Regions from separate parts of the Homo sapiens genome. Here region 2 is linked to region 1. A link means that fine-mapping ties the variant in region 1 to the expression of a gene that starts in the linked region. Tissue or cell type: whole blood. Region 1 holds a variant in brackets; the other region holds the start of a gene. All regions are shown on one strand. Distances are from middle to middle.

Region 1 (8,000 bases):
TTTTTTTTTTTTAGTAGAGACGGGGTTTCACTGTGTTAGCCAGGATGGTCTCGATCTCCTGACCTCGTGATCCACCCACCTCGGCCTTCCAAAGTGCTGGGATTACAGTTGTGAGCCACCACGCCCGGCCATGCCTGGCTAATTTTTAAATTTTGTGTAGAGACAGGGTCTCGCCATGTTGCCCAGGCTAGTCTCAAAATCCTGGGCTCAATCGATCCTCCCGCCTCGGCCTCCCAAAGTGCTGGGATTACAGGTGTGAGCCACCGTGCCCAGCCCACAGTCTTATAGTGAATGAGTTTGGATATAAATTGGGGAACAAAAGTCGTTTTGCTCCAGAAGGGCACAAAAACAAGGAGCGGAGGTGTCCAGTGTGTCAGAAGAAGCCCCAAAGTGCACCATGTTCACACATAAAGCAGAGGTAGGTTCTAGGCTCTGCTAAACATAAAGGAGCTTCTCCCCTTGGAGGGTGTTTGCTGGGGCTTGAGCAAGTTATTAGGGACCCAGGACAGCTCCCCTTGTGAGCAACAAACCTGTGCACTGCTGGACATTAGGGCCTCTGGGCTCTGGCCCCGTAAATGCAGGTGGTGCCTGTTTGATGATAACATCCCAGAAAGCCCGCAAATTTCCCACATGCCACCTGTTGAGACTGCTCTACTGCCTGCCTCCCACAGCTGCCCGGAGCTAAATTTCCAAGAGAACCTCTCACTCTTACCCCAGGGGTCCAGCCTCCCCCAGGAGCCAGGGTCATCGGCCCCCAGCCTCAATGCCCCTTTCTCCTCCAGGAAACCCTGGAGGACCTGGACAGAAACAAAGATGGCTATGTCCAGGTGGAGGAGTACATCGGTGAGTGGGCCCCAATTTCTTCTTGGGATGCCTGTCCTCTCTCAGGCATGGGCAGGGTTGGTGGGGGTAGCCGGAGGTACATCACCCATCATCAGAGAACAGTGGCCCTCAGACATGGGGGCAGGGGCACTCACTGCTTGAGTTCATTTAGCCACCCAACATTTATTGAGCACCTACTCTATACCAGACACAAAAAGCATCTATTGAGCACCTGCTGTGTGTCACGCCCAGGATACACTTACTGAGCACCTACTGCATATGGGTGGTTGCGCCTACAGCAGACAATAACACAGACAAATCCCTTCTTGGGGGTCTGGAGTTTCTACAAAATCAAGGCTCAGGGGCTATGTTTAGTTGAGAATGGGGGTCAGGAAGCTGGTCTTGAACCTGCGCCTGCACAGCAAACACTGTTTCCTGTTACATGGGATGTTGGGGGATCCTCACAATACCCCCTGAGTTCTGAGTTCTCCCTGGGCCCCTGCCACTGTCCCTGCCCCTAGCGGGCAAAAAATTTAGTCAAGGAGAACGCTAACAAGGAATTTTTTTTTTTTTTTTTTTTTTTTGAGACAGTTTTTTTCTGTTGCTCAGGCTGGAGCGCGGTGGCGTGGTATCGGCTCTCTGCAACCTCCGCCTCCCGGGCTCAAGAGATTCTTCTGCCTCAGCCTCCTGAGTAGCTGGGATTACTGGTGCCTGCCACCACGCCTGGCTAATTTTTGTATTTTTAGTGGAGATGGGATTTCACCATGTTGGCCAGGCTGGTCTAGAACTCCCAACCTCAGGTGATCTGCTCATCTTGGCCTCCCAAAGTGGTGGGATTACAGGCGTGAGCAACCACGCCCGGCCAGGAATTTTTTTTTAAGTTTGAAAACATTGTTTATTCTTTTATTTTTTTCTGACCACATCCTACATGAGAAAACATTTTTCTTTCTTTCCTTCTCTCACTTTCTTTCTTTCTGTCACTCTTTCTTTCTATCTGTCTGTCTGTGTGTGTGTGTGTCTCTCTCTTTATTAAATAGAGATGGGTTCTCACTATATTGTCCAGGCTGGTCTAGAACTCCTGGGCTCAAGCAATCTTCCCACCTTGGCCTCCCAAAGAGCTGAGATTACAGGCATGAATCACCACACCTGGCTGAGAGAACATTTTTATATTTTTTTCTTAAGAGATGGGGTTGGGCCAGGCGCAGTGGCTCATACCTGTAATCCCAGCACTTTGGGAGGCTGAGATGGATGGATCATGAAGTCAGGAGTTCGAGACCAGCCTGGCCAAGATGGTGTACTAAAAATACAAAAATTAGCCGGGCCTGTTGGCAGGAGCCTGTAATCCCAGTTACTCTGGGGACTGAGGCAAGAGAATCTCTGGAACCCGGGAGGCAAAGGTTGCAGTGAGCTGTAATCGCGCCATTGCACTTCAGTCTGGGCAACAAGAGCGAAACTCCATCTTAAAAAAAAAAAAAAAAGATGGGGTCTTGCCCTGTCGCCCAGGCTGGAGTGCAGTGGGGTGATCTTGGCTCACTGCAGCCTTGACCTCCTGGGCTCAAGGGATCCTCCCACCTCAGCCTCCCAAGTAGCTGAGACTCCAGGCACAGTGCGGCCTCTGGAGATACTTCTGGTTGTCACTTCTAGAGGGGTGAGGATGCTACTGACGTCTCCTGGATAGAGCCCAGAGATGCTCCTTAGCATTCTCCGGTGCACAGGACAGGCCCTGACAACAAGGAGGTCACAGGCCCCAGATGCCAGCAGCTGTCCCCATCTCTTTTTTTTTTTTTTTGAGACAGAGTCTCGCTATTGTCGCCCAGGCTGGAGTGCAGTGGCATGATCTCGGCTCACTGCAACCTCCGCCTCCCAGGTTCAAGCAATTCTCTTGTTTCAGCCTCCTGAGTAGGTGGGATTATGGGCGTGCACTACCACGCCTGGCTAATTTTGTATTTTTAGTAGAGACGGGGTTTCACCATTTTGGTCAGGCTGGTCTTGAACTCTTGACCTCAGGTTATCCACCTGCCTCGGCCTCCCAAAGTGCTGGGATTACAGGCGCGAACCACCGCACCCAGCCTATCTTCTCAATTACTTCATCCCATTAAGACTTCATCTTCCATTCCTCAGCTCTACCAGGCAGACACTGTCACTATCCTCCATTATATAGATGACACCTGAGGCCCAGGGGGGTTGAAGGGATCTGCTGAAGACAATGGGAAGAGGCAGGGCTAGGATTTGAACCTTGGTGTTTGGGCTCTGGCACCTATTTCTTAACTCCTCCCCAACCAGTAACATATCAAAATGTATAAAATTGGGGTGGGTGCCATGGCTCACGCCTGTATTCCCAGCACTTTAGGAGGCCAAGGTGGGTGGATCACTTGAGGTCAAGAGTTCAAGACCAGCCTGGCCAACATGATGAAACCCTGTCTCTACTAAAACTAGAAAAATTAGCTGGGCGTGGTGGCGGGTACCTGTAATCCCAGCTACTTGGGAGGCTGAGGCAGGAGAATCACTTGAACCCAGAAGGTGCAGGTTGCAGTGAGCTGAGATTGTGTCACTGCACTCCAGCCTGTAATCCCAGCACTTTGGGAGACTGAGGCAGGTGGATCATGGGGTCAGGAGTTTGAGAGCAGCCTGGCCAAGATGGTGAAACCCCGCCTCTACTAAAAATATAAAAATTAGCTGGGTGTGGTGGCACGCACCTGTAATCCCAGCTACTTGGGAGGCTGAGGCAGGAGAATCGCTTGAACCTGGGAGGCAGAGGTTGCAGTGAGCTGAGATTGCGCCATTGCACTACAGCCTGGGCAACAAGAGCGAAACTCCATCTTAAAAAAAAAAAGGGGGTGGGGTCTTGCCCTGTTGCCCAGGCTGGAGTGCAGTGGGGTAATCACAGCGAGACTCCATCTCAAAAAAAAAAAAAAAAATTTGTAGAAACAGGGTCTTGCTATGTTGCCCAGGTTGGTCTTGAATCTTGGCCTCAAATGACCCTCCTGCCTGGGTCTCCCAAAGTGTTGGATTACAGTCATCACTGCACCTGGCATCTCTGTCACCTGCTAACTGGCCAGAAACATCCTCGCACGTTCCTCCTGCATAGACATTGCTTACTATGTGCCAGGCACTGCCTTGCCCATTGCACACACTACTTCACGTGTGTGTCAATGAAATCAATCAATCATGCAATCAACCAATCAAATGAATTTCACCTGTAACACAAATGATTGCTTATAAGTCAGGTTTTGTTACTAATTCCATCGAAACAGAAGAGGACGCTGAGGCGAGAGAGAGGGTAGTGAGTTGCTCAAGGGCCTGGTTCAGGAAGTATCAGAGCCAGGATCAGCCCCCAGCTCCACTAGACCCCCAGAGCTGCCCCTGACCTTGTCCCCTCTGTCCCGGCCCCCAGCGGATCTGTACTCAGCCGAGCCTGGGGAGGAGGAGCCGGCGTGGGTGCAGACGGAGAGGCAGCAGTTCCGGGACTTCCGGGATCTGAACAAGGATGGGCACCTGGA[T/C]GGGAGTGAGGTGGGCCACTGGGTGCTGCCCCCTGCCCAGGACCAGCCCCTGGTGGAAGCCAACCACCTGCTGCACGAGAGCGACACGGACAAGGTGCAGTGACGGGGCCTCGGCAGGAGCGAGGAGCGGGTGGGCATTGCGGGCCAGACTCCAGAAAGGAGCAAGACCTGGGCCTGGAGCTCAGGGTCCCTTTTAGGTGGGATAAAAAAAGAGGGACAGAGAGAGGGAGGAAAAGAGAGGGCACGGAGCCCCAGAAAGAGAGGGGGACAGAGACCCAGAGACCCAAAGAGAGAAGGACAGGGACCAAGACGGGGACAGATTCAGAGAGAAAGGGACAGAGGCCCAGAGAACAAGGGTCCCAGAGACTTCGGGACACGCTTGGATGCAGGGAGGGCTTTTGAAAGCAGGGCCGTGTTGTCCCCTCTGAACCCTGACCCTCCCTCCAGGATGGGCGGCTGAGCAAAGCGGAAATCCTGGGTAATTGGAACATGTTTGTGGGCAGTCAGGCCACCAACTATGGCGAGGACCTGACCCGGCACCACGATGAGCTGTGAGCACCGCGCACCTGCCACAGCCTCAGAGGCCCGCACAATGACCGGAGGAGGGGCCGCTGTGGTCTGGCCCCCTCCCTGTCCAGGCCCCGCAGGAGGCAGATGCAGTCCCAGGCATCCTCCTGCCCCTGGGCTCTCAGGGACCCCCTGGGTCGGCTTCTGTCCCTGTCACACCCCCAACCCCAGGGAGGGGCTGTCATAGTCCCAGAGGATAAGCAATACCTATTTCTGACTGAGTCTCCCAGCCCAGACCCAGGGACCCTTGGCCCCAAGCTCAGCTCTAAGAACCGCCCCAACCCCTCCAGCTCCAAATCTGAGCCTCCACCACATAGACTGAAACTCCCCTGGCCCCAGCCCTCTCCTGCCTGGCCTGGCCTGGGACACCTCCTCTCTGCCAGGAGGCAATAAAAGCCAGCGCCGGGACCTTGTGTGTCTGTCTGTTGTCTGCCTGTCTCTATGAAGGGTAAGGGGGCCCTGGAGATGGTTTGGGGGCTGTGACTGGGAGTTGGGGGCTGAGACATGCAATAGGGGACCAGGCATTTGAAGGAGGGGTGCTGGGTGTTGGAGGGATTGGAGGGCGTTCCTCAGTATAAAACAAACAAACAAAAAAAATTGGGCCAGGCCCGGTGGCTCACGCCTGTAAGCCCAGCAATTTGGGAGGCTGAGGCGGGTAGATCACGAGGTCGGGGGTCCTAGACCAGCCTGGCCAACATGGTGAAACCCCGTCTCTACTAGAAATACAAAAATTAACCAGGCCTGGTGATGGGCACCTATAATCCCAGCTACTCTGGAGGCTGAAGCAGAATCGCTTGAACCCGGGAGGTGGAGGTTGTCGTGAGCCGAAATGGCGCCACTGCACTCCAGCCTGGGTGACAGAGGGAGACTCTGTCTCAAAAAAAAAAGGGAAAAAAAGCCTGGACTCTGCAGCGCACAAACCAGACAGGAAGCCCTGCCCTCTCAGAGCTCCAGTTCTGTAAGGAAGAGACACAGCGACCTAAAATATGGCACGGCGCAACAGATGCTGTGAAGCAGGGGAAGCGTGTAGCAGTGTGGCAATGTTCTGATGACTGAGAGGCTGGGAAAGGTCTCAATGGTAAATGGAGTGAAGGAGGGAGCCACGGAGAGATCTGGAGGGAGAGCATTCCAGGGAGAGAGAAGAGCAAGTAAAATGGCCCTGAGGCAGGAGTGGGCCTGGTGTGGCAGCATCAGCAAGGAGGCTAGAGTGGCTGGAAGGGAATGAGCCAGTGGAAGAGGGTCAGAGCTGAGAGCAGATGGGGCAAGTGGCCAGACTGTGCAGGCCCCTGCAGGCAGGTCATGGTGGTCCCTGTTTGGTGGCACAAGACAGGGATGGACAGAGACCCAGAGAGAAGGGGTGGGGAGTCAGAGAGAGAGGGACAGAGACCCAGAGAGAGAGGGGAACAGAGACCCAGAGAGAGAGGGACAGAGACCCAGAGAGAGAGGGGAACAGAGACCCAGAGAGAGAGGGGAACAGAGACCCAGAGAGAGAGAGGGGAACAGAGACCCAGAGAGAGGGAGACAGAAACTCAGAGAGAGGGAAACAGAGACCCAGAGAGTGGGGGACAGAGATCCAAAGAGAATGGGGATAGAGACCCAGAGAGACACAGAATTTATTCTGAGTGACATGAGAGTCGCTGGAGTGTCATGAGCAGAGGAGGGATTATAAACTGCTTTGAGTTATTTAAGAGTCGGGTTGGGCGCAGTGGTTCACGCCTGTAATCCCAAGGATTAATCAAGGATTGCTTGAGGCCAGGAGTTCAAGACCAGTCTGGGATGATCTTTTATAAAGATGGCATCTCTTTTTTTTTTTCTTTCTTTTTTTTTGAGACGGAGTCTCGCTCTGTCGCCCAGGCTGGAGTGCAGTGGCGCACTCTCACCTCACTGCAAGCTCCACCTCCCGGGCTCACGCCATTTATAGAGACCATATCTCTATTTAAAAATTAGTTTATGGCCGGGCACGGTGGTTCACGCCTGTAATCCCAGCTCTTTCAGAGGCCGAGGCAGGCAGATCACGAGGTCAGTAGATCGAGACCATCCTGGCTAACACGGTGAAACCCCGCCTCTACTAAAAAATACAAAAAATTAGCCAGGCATGGTGGCGGGCGCCTGTAGTCCCAGCTACTCGGGAGGCTGAGGCAGGAGAATGGCCTGAACCCGGGAGGCGGAGCTTGTAGTGAGCCGAGATCGCGCCACTGCACTCCAGCCTGGGAGACAGAGCGAGACTCTGTCTCAAAAAAAAAAATTAACTTACTAAAAAAATTAATTTACTAATTAATTTTTAAAAAGGAAATTCAAGAACAGGCAAAACTAATCTGGGGGTTAGAACTCAGGATGTTGTTCACCCTTGCGGGGGAGGGACCAGAATGGACCTCATGGGCTTCTTATCGGGAGAGGGAGGCTGGAAAATAGCCTATTCTTGATCTAGGTACTGCTTCCCAGGGGTGGTCAGATTATGAAAATTCATTCAGTTCTCCACATGTGATGTATGCCCTTTTATGCATGATAGAATTCAATTCAAAATTTACTTTTTTTTTTTTTTTTTTTTTGAGACAGAGTTTTGCTCTTGTTGCCCAGGCTGGAGTGCAATGGCACAATCTCGGCTCACTGCAACCTCCACCTCCCAGGTTCAAGCGATTCTCCTGCCTCAGCCTCCTGAGTAGCTGGGATTACAGGCATGCACCACCACGCCTGGCTAATTTTGTATTTTTAGTAGAGACAGGGTTTCTCCATGTTGGTCAGGCTGGTATCGAACTCCTGACCTCAGGTGATCCACCTGCCTCAGCCTCCCAAAGTGCTGGGATTACAGGCTTGAGCCATTGTGCCTGGCCGATAGCTATTTTTTTTTTTTTTTTTTTTTTTTTTTTTTGAGATGGAGTCTTGCTCTTGTCATCCTGGCTGGAGTGCAATGGCATGATCTTGACTCACTGCAACCTCCACCTCCCGGGCTGAAGTGATTCTCCTGTCTCAGCCTCCCGAGTAGCTGGGATTACTGGCATGGACCACCACGCCCGGCTAATTTTTGTATTTTTATTAGAGACGGGGTTTCACCATGTTGGCCAGGCTGGTCTCGAACTCCCGACCTCAGGTGATCCGCCCTCCCCGACCTCC
Region 2 (8,000 bases), 30 kb before region 1:
AGCCCTAAACATAATCACAGGACTCCTTTGGAGAGGGAGGCAGGCGGGTTGGTGTCGGAGAGAGAAGACGTGAGGACCGACATATGGGTCAGAGAGGGGAGAGGATGCCGTGCTGCTGGCCTTGAAGATGGAGGACTGGGCCATGAGCCAAGGAATGCTGGTAGCTTCTAGAAGCTGGGAAAGGCAAAAACACCGATTCTTCCCTGGAGCCTCCAGAAAGAACACAAAATTGTTGGGTGCGGTGGTTCACGCCTGTAATCCCAACACTTTGGGAGGCCGAGGCGGGTGGATCACGAGGTCAGGAGTTCGAGACCAGCCTGGCCAATATGGTGAAACGCCGTCTCTACTAAAAATACAAAAATTAGCCGGGTGTGGTGGCGGGTGCCTGTAATCCCAGCTACTCAGGAGGCTGAGGCAGGAGAATCTCTTGAACCCGGGAGGCGGAGGTTGCAGTGAGCCGAGTTCGCACCAGTGCACTCCAAGCTGGGCAACAGAGCCAGACTCCATCTAAAAAAAAAAAAAAAAAGGAACACAAAACCTGTGAGTATCATAGGTGGTCCAAGGAGCTTTACGAATGTCCTGGTAATGTTACAGCAGGGCCCTGGGGGTGGGGACGTGAGAGCTAAGGCTGGGTTATAGAGGACCCCACAGTGATGGTAGTCAGACTTCCAGGAAAAGCATAGCAGGCTCCTGAGGGACACTGTAACAGGGCATTGAGGATTCTGTCAGGGTCCAAGGAACCTTAAAATGGGGCCCAGGGGCTGCTGGAATAGTGTCCTGAAGACATTACATGATCCCAAGGAAACTAGAGGGGACAGCTAAGGACAGGGCAGTTGCCTCAGGGTATTTTGGGGAAGAGCTGAGGGTGCTGTAATTAGGATTCTTAAGAAATTAAAGCAGGTGGCCAGGCGCAGTGGCTCACACCTGTAATTCCCAGCACTTTGGGAGGCCGAGTCGGGCGGATCACGAGGTCAGGAGATCGAGACCATCCTGGCTAACACGGTGAAACCCTGTCTCTACTAAAAATATAAAAATTAGCCAGGCGTGGTGGCAGGCTCACGTAGTCCCAGTTACTCGGGAGGCTGAGGCAGGAGAATGGCGTGAACCTGGGAGGCGCAGCTTGCAGTGAGCCGAGACTGCACCACTGCCCTCCAGCCTGGGCGACAGAGCAAGACTCTGTCTCAAAAAATAAAAAAAAGAAAAGAAAAGAAGAAAAGAAGAAGTTAAAGCAGGTTCTTTCTGTCTCTTAGGAGTGGACCTTGGGATGGGTGTCACTGGATCTCCCTTCTAGTAGGACACAGGGAGAATCAGGTAGGACACAGTAGGACACAGGCAGAATGAGAAAAATGAAGACATTCTGGACAAGGAGAACAGAGATTTACCTGGTTAATTTTATGTGTCAATTTGGCTGAGCCACAGTGAGTGAAGAGATATTCGGTCAACATTATTCTGGATGTCTCTATGAGGGTGTTTTAGGATGAGATTTACATATATATTTGTGAGACAGGGTCTTGCTGCTGCCCAGGCTGGAGTGCAGTGGCGCCATCACGGCTCACTGCAGCCTCCAACTCTTGGGCTCAAGGGGTCCCCCAGCTTCAGCCTCTTGAGTAGCTGGGACCACAAGTGCGCACCACCACACCCGGCTAATATTTTAATTTTTTGTAGAGATAAGCTCTCTCTGTTACTCAGGCTGGTCCTTGAACTCAAGCGATCCTCCTGCCTTGGCCTACCAAAGTGCTGGGATTACAGGCATGAGCCACTGTGCCCAGCTGAGATTTATGTTTAGATTGTTAGGCTTTGAGTAAAGGAGGTTCCCCTTCCTGAATTGAGGGAGGCTCATCCAACCACTTGAAACCCTGAATAGAAGAAAAGTCTCGGCTGGGTGCGGTGGCTCACGCCTATAATCCCAGCACTTTGGAAGGCTGAGGCGGGCAGATCACGAGGTCAAGAGATCGAGGCCATCCTGGCCAACATGGTGAAATCCCCGTCTCTACTAAAAATACAAAAATTAACCGGGTGTGGTGGCAGGTGCCTGTAATCCCAGCTACTTGGGAGGCTGAGGCAGGAGAATCGCTTGAACCCGGGAGGCGGAGGTTGCAGTGAGCCAAGATCGGGCCATTGCGCTCCAGCCTGATGGCAGAGCGAGACTGCGTCTCAAAAAAAAAAAAAAGAAGAAAAGTCTGCCCAGAGGGAGAGGGAGTCCTGCTAGGCAATTGTGTCTCCCACCTGCTGGCTCCCCCATTAGACTTTGGGGTTTCTTTCTTTCTTTCTTTCTTTTTTTTGAGATGGAGTCTTGCTCTGTCGCCCAGGCTGGAGGGCAGTGGCGGGATCTCAGCTCACTGCAAGCTCCGCCTCCCGGGTTCACGCCATTCTCTTGCCTCAGCCTCCTGAGTAACTGGGACTACAGGCGCCTGCCACCATGCCTCGCTAATTTTTTTATATTTTTAGTAGGGATGGGGTTTCACCATGACCTCGTGATCTGCCCGCCTTGGCCTCCCAAAGTGCTGGGATTACAGGCTTGAGCCACCGCGTCCAACATTTTTGAAATTTTTTTTAAAAATAGAGACAGGGTCTCCCTATGTTGGCCAGGTTGGTCTCAAACTCCTGGACTCAAGCGATCCTCCCAACTTGGCCTCCCAAAGTGCTGGGATGACAGGCATGCACCACCACACCTGGCCCCCGCATCAGACTCTGAACCAGCTGAACGTCCACTAATCCTGGAAGCCAATTCCTCAAATGAATCTCTTTCTGTGTATGCATATACACATTCTGTGGATTCTGTTTCTCTAGAGAACCTGAACTACCTGACCAGCAGTTCCACTCCCAGATGTATGCTCAATAGAGCTGAAAACAGGCCAGGCATGGGTGTCTTGCACCTGTCATCCCAGTGCTTTGGGAGGCCAAGGTGGGAGGCTGTCTTGAGCCCAGCAGTTTGAGACCAGCCTGGGAAACATAGCAAGACACTATCTCTGCAAAAATACAAAAATTAGCTGGGCCTGGTGGCAAGTGTGTGTAATTCCAGCTCCTTGAGAGGCTAAGGCAGGTGGAGTGCTTGAGCTTGGGAGGTTGAGGCTGCAGTGAGCCATGATCGCTCCACGGCATTCTAGCTTGAGTGACAGAGCCAGACCCTGTCAAAAAAAAGGAAAGGAAGGAAGGAAGGAAGGAAGGAAGGAAGGAAGGAAGGAAGGAAGGAAGGAGGCAAGGAAGGAAGGAGGCAAGGAAGGAAGGAAGGAAGGAGGCAAGGAAGGAAGGAAGGAAAGACTTCATATTATATGATTCAATTTCTTTGAAATGTGCAGAATAGGCAAATCTATCAAGACAGAAAGCAGATGAATGGTTGCCAGGGGTCTGGGAGCAGCGGCTGTTTAACGGGGACAGACCTTCTGTTTGGGGTGATAAAAAAGCTCTGGAACTCGGATAGAGGTGACAGTTGCACAGCACTGTAAATGTGTTAAATGACAGTAAGGGTAAATATTTTGAATATTTTACCACAATGAAATAAGTGTATGGGAAGCTTTGTAGCAGGAGTGTGGGCGGGGGCTGGTGCCTGGAGGGGCCTTCGAGTGAGGCAGCATTGTATGGGGACCATGTGGTCACTGAAGTCCTAGCAGAAGGATGTGGTTTTTTTTTTTTTTTGAGACGGAGTCTCGCTCTGTTGCCAGTCTGGAGTGCAGTGGTGCAATCTCGGCTCACTGCGACCTCCACCTCCCGGGTTCAAGCAATTCTCCTGTCTCAGCCTCCCGAGTAGCTGGGACCACAGGCCCACCACCACGCTCAGCTAATTTTTGTATTATTAGTAGAGACGGGGGTGTCACCATATTGGCCAGGCTGGTCTCGAACTCCTGACCTCGTGATCCGCCCGCCTTGGCCTCCCAAAGTGCTGGGATTACAGGCGTGAGTCACTGCGCCCGGCCCGCAGAAGGATATTAAAGAGCACCTGCAGGAATTTTTTAAGGGGATGCCGGGGGAAGGGCTTGAAGGAGGAACTAAGGAGGCTTCCAGAAGATTTTGATTAACAGCGAGCGCTAGGGAAGGCCACGGGGATACAGAGGGGTAGGAGGAGGATCCAGAGACCTCCAAGTTGTGGACTCCGGAGGCATCGAGTTCCTTTCCCAGTTTTGTCAAGAATTCCCTGAGCGGCAGACACCCTCAAAGTAAAAAACGGGAACCACAGAGAAGGAAAAAGAAGAACCACAAGCGTTTTGAGAAACAAACAGGCTGGGCCTAGGGCCTGGGGTGTGCCCTGCAACTGGGGGGTGGGGCTGGATGTTCTTGGAGTCAGGGAGCAGCAGCCTCCCACAGGATGTGAGAGAGGAACTGGGGTCTCCAGTCACGGGAGCCAGGAGCCGGCCAGGGCCGCAGGCAGGAAGGGAGCGAGGCTGAAGGGAACGTGAGCCGACCAGGGCCCGACTGAGGGAGGAGGGGCTGGGGGCCTGGAACCCTGGGTCTGAGGGAGGAGTGGCTGGGGGTCTCGACACTGGGTCTGAGGGAGGAGGGGTGGGGGCCTGGATTCCTGGGTCTGAGAGAGGAGGGACTGGGGGTCTGGACGCTGGGTCTGAGGGAGGAGGGAGGAGGGGCCGGGGGGGCCTGGACTCCTGGGTCCGAGGGAGGAGGGGTTGGGGGCCCGGACTCCTGGGTCCGAGGGTAGAGCGGTTGGGGGCCCGGACTCCTGGGTCCGAGGGTAGAGCGGTTGGGGGCCCGGACTCCTGGGTCCGAGGGAAGAGCGGTTGGGGGCCTGGACTCCGGGGTCTGAGGGAGGAGGGGCTGGGGCCTGAGGGGGGCGGAAGGGGCGTGGCGGAGCTCGGGGCCGGGACTCTCAGCCTATCAAGTGTCTGTAATTAATTAACCAACTGAGATCCAGTTCAGGGGTGAAAGTTCTTCAGGTACGAGGAGGGCATTGTTGTCAGTCTGGACCGAGCCCGCAGAGCCCCTCCTCGGCGTCCTGGTCCCGGCCGTGCCCGCGGTGTCCCGGGAGGAAGGGGCGGGCCGGGGGTCGGGAGGAGTCACGTGCCCCCTCCCGCCCCAGGTCGTCCTCTCAGCATGGGGGTCCCGCGGCCTCAGCCCTGGGCGCTGGGGCTCCTGCTCTTTCTCCTTCCTGGGAGCCTGGGCGCAGGTGAGGGCCGCTCCGGGCCAGGGCCCTGCTGCAGGCGGGCGGCGGGAGGCGGCCCCAGGCAGGCAGGGGCGAAGCCAGCGGGACCCGAGTTCCCCGCGAGCCCCTGGCGCTGCCTTCTCCGCTCAATTAACTTTCTCAACGTCTCCTGCTGGGCCTGAGGCTGGGAACCACCTGTCGCCTCTTGTGTCTGTTTCCCTCTCTCTCTCTGGGTCTCTGTCCCCCTCTCTTTCTGGGTCTCTTGTCTCTCTCTCTCTGGGTCTCTGTCCCCCCCCCCCCGGGTTTCTGTCCCCTCTCTCTGAATCTGTCCCCCTCCCTCCATAATAGATTCTTCTCCCTCCCTGGGTATCTGTCCCACTGCAGTCTAGTTCCCCGCCCGTGTGCTCCCTTCAGCTCTGTTTCTGTCTGCAGAAAGCCACCTCTCCCTCCTGTACCACCTTACCGCGGTGTCCTCGCCTGCCCCGGGGACTCCTGCCTTCTGGGTGTCCGGCTGGCTGGGCCCGCAGCAGTACCTGAGCTACAATAGCCTGCGGGGCGAGGCGGAGCCCTGTGGAGCTTGGGTCTGGGAAAACCAGGTGTCCTGGTATTGGGAGAAAGAGACCACAGATCTGAGGATCAAGGAGAAGCTCTTTCTGGAAGCTTTCAAAGCTTTGGGGGGAAAAGGTGAGATTCCGGTCTGGAGGGGCAAGGGGCCGGGTCCATGCTCCGGGGCCCCGCTTACCTGTGTTTGGGCGCCCCAGGTCCCTACACTCTGCAGGGCCTGCTGGGCTGTGAACTGGGCCCTGACAACACCTCGGTGCCCACCGCCAAGTTCGCCCTGAACGGCGAGGAGTTCATGAATTTCGACCTCAAGCAGGGCACCTGGGGTGGGGACTGGCCCGAGGCCCTGGCTATCAGTCAGCGGTGGCAGCAGCAGGACAAGGCGGCCAACAAGGAGCTCACCTTCCTGCTATTCTCCTGCCCGCACCGCCTGCGGGAGCACCTGGAGAGGGGCCGCGGAAACCTGGAGTGGAAGGGTGAGCCGGATCTGCAGCCGCAGGCTGTTCTGTCCTCTCTCCCGTCATGCCCACCTGCCTCAGTTCCCCTGCCAGGACCCTCCATCAGCCTCCCACTGCAGCCCACGCTCTGCCCCCCCATTCCTCAGGGGTCCTTCTACACTCAGCCCTCCCATGGCTCCCCAGCGCCCCCCAGGACAAACTCCTGGCTTCCTTCCTTGCCTTCTTTTTTTTTTTTTTTTTGTGAGACGGAGTTTCGCTCTTGTTGCCCAGGCTGGAGTGTAATGGCGCGATCTCGGCTCACCACAACCTCCGCCTCCCGGGTTCAAGTGATCTCCTGCCTCAGCCTCCCGAGTGGCTGGGATTACAGGCATGCACCACCATGCCCGGCTAATTTTGTATTTTTAGTAGAGACGGGGTTTCTTCATGTTGGTCAGGCTGGTCTCAAACCCCTGACCTCAGGTGATCCGCCCACCTCAGCCTCCCAAAGTGCTGGGATTACAGGCATGAGCTACTGCTCCTGGCTCCCCCCTTTTTTTTTTTTTTGAGACAGATTCTCGCTCTGTCACCCCAGGCTGGAATGTGGTGGCACCATCTCGGCTCACTGCAGCCTGAACCTCCCAGGCTCAAGCAGTCCTCCCACCTCAGCCAACCAAGTAGCTGGGACCACAGCCCAGCATCATCACACCTGGCTAACTTTATATTTTGTAGACACGGTGTCTCACTATGTTGCCCAGGCTGGTCTTGAACTCCTAGGCTCCAGCGATTCTCCTGCTTTGGTCTCCTGAGTAGCTGAGATTACAGGTGCATACCACCATAACTGGCTAATTTTTTTTTTTCCGCACAATCTCTGTTGCCCAGGCTAGTGTGAAGCAGGGTGATCTCAGCTCGCTGCAACCTCCGCCTCCTGGGTTTAAGGGATTCCGCTGCTTCAGCCTCATGAGTAGCTGGCACTATAGGCACATCCACCATGTCTGGCTAATTTTTATACTTTTAGTAGAGATGGGGTTTCGTCATGGTAGCTAGGCTGGTCTCAAACTCTTGACCTCAAGTGATCCACCCACCTCCGCCTCCCAAAGTGCTGGGATTACAGGAGTGAGCTACCGCGTCTGGCCATACCTGGCTAATTTTTAAAATTTGTTGTAGAGGTGGCATCTCACTATGCTGCCCAGGCCAGACTCAAACTCCTGGCCTCAAGTGATTCTCTCACTTTGGCCTCCCAGGGTGCTGGGATGACAGGTGTGAGCCACTGTGCTTGGCCTTCCTTGCCTTAATGTCCTCATCAGACCCACGCAGCAGCACTTGTCTCTACGCAGCCATCAGAGTCTACGCTCCAGCCACCCAACATAAGCAATCTCCTCCCTCTGGGCATTTGCTCATCCAGTTTCCCCTGGCACCTCTCTGTTCCACCCTTCCCCCTCTCTGCATATACTCCAGCCCTCCTTATTCTTCAAGGTCAGGGCTGGATATCACTTCCTCTGAGAAGCCTTTCCTCAGCTCTGTAGGGCAGAGTTCACTGTTTCCTCCCCGGAGGCCCCCAGATCCCCACTCATTCAACTGTTGGCCAAGAGCATTTGCACTGCCAGGCGCTGCTCTGGGCCTTGAGCAAAGAGGGAAGTGACACACATTCACCCTCTGTGGCTCCCAGGCTGCTGGACAAAGATAGATACCAGCTGGGGATGTGCACAGATATTCATTCCAAGTGCCACAAAGGAGAAGTTGAGACTCAACCAGGTAGTTTTTCTTTAATTGTCTTCTTTCTTTCCTAAGTAGGGAAAATTTCTTTCTTTTTTTGAGACAGAGTTTCGCTCTTGTCGCCCAGGCTGGAGTGCAATGGCGCGATCTCGGCTCACTGCAACCTCCGCCTCCCAGGTTCAAGTGATTCTCCTGCCTCA

The links. PIP is the estimated chance that this variant, and not a neighbour inherited with it, causes the effect.
Region 2: FCGRT starts here. The variant in region 1 is fine-mapped to the expression of FCGRT in whole blood (TOPMed, PIP above 0.99).

What each region holds. Positions count from the first base shown.
Region 1 is chr19:49,538,337-49,546,336 of GRCh38, forward strand. RCN3 (reticulocalbin 3) reads left to right here. Exons shown (of 7, transcript NM_020650.3): 5 at 783-843; 6 at 4,217-4,416; 7 at 4,770-5,297. The coding sequence ends at 4,877. Among named protein-coding and RNA genes, the nearest start is that of RCN3, 14 kb to the left of the region's middle. The variant T/C (reference allele first, on the strand shown) is at 4,323.
Region 2 is chr19:49,508,361-49,516,360 of GRCh38, forward strand. It overlaps FCGRT (Fc gamma receptor and transporter), which reads left to right and starts at 4,301. Exons shown (of 7, transcript NM_001136019.3): 1 at 4,301-4,390; 2 at 5,027-5,113; 3 at 5,522-5,773; 4 at 5,851-6,126. The coding sequence starts at 5,041. RefSeq lists enhancers at 3,321-3,883, 5,811-6,524.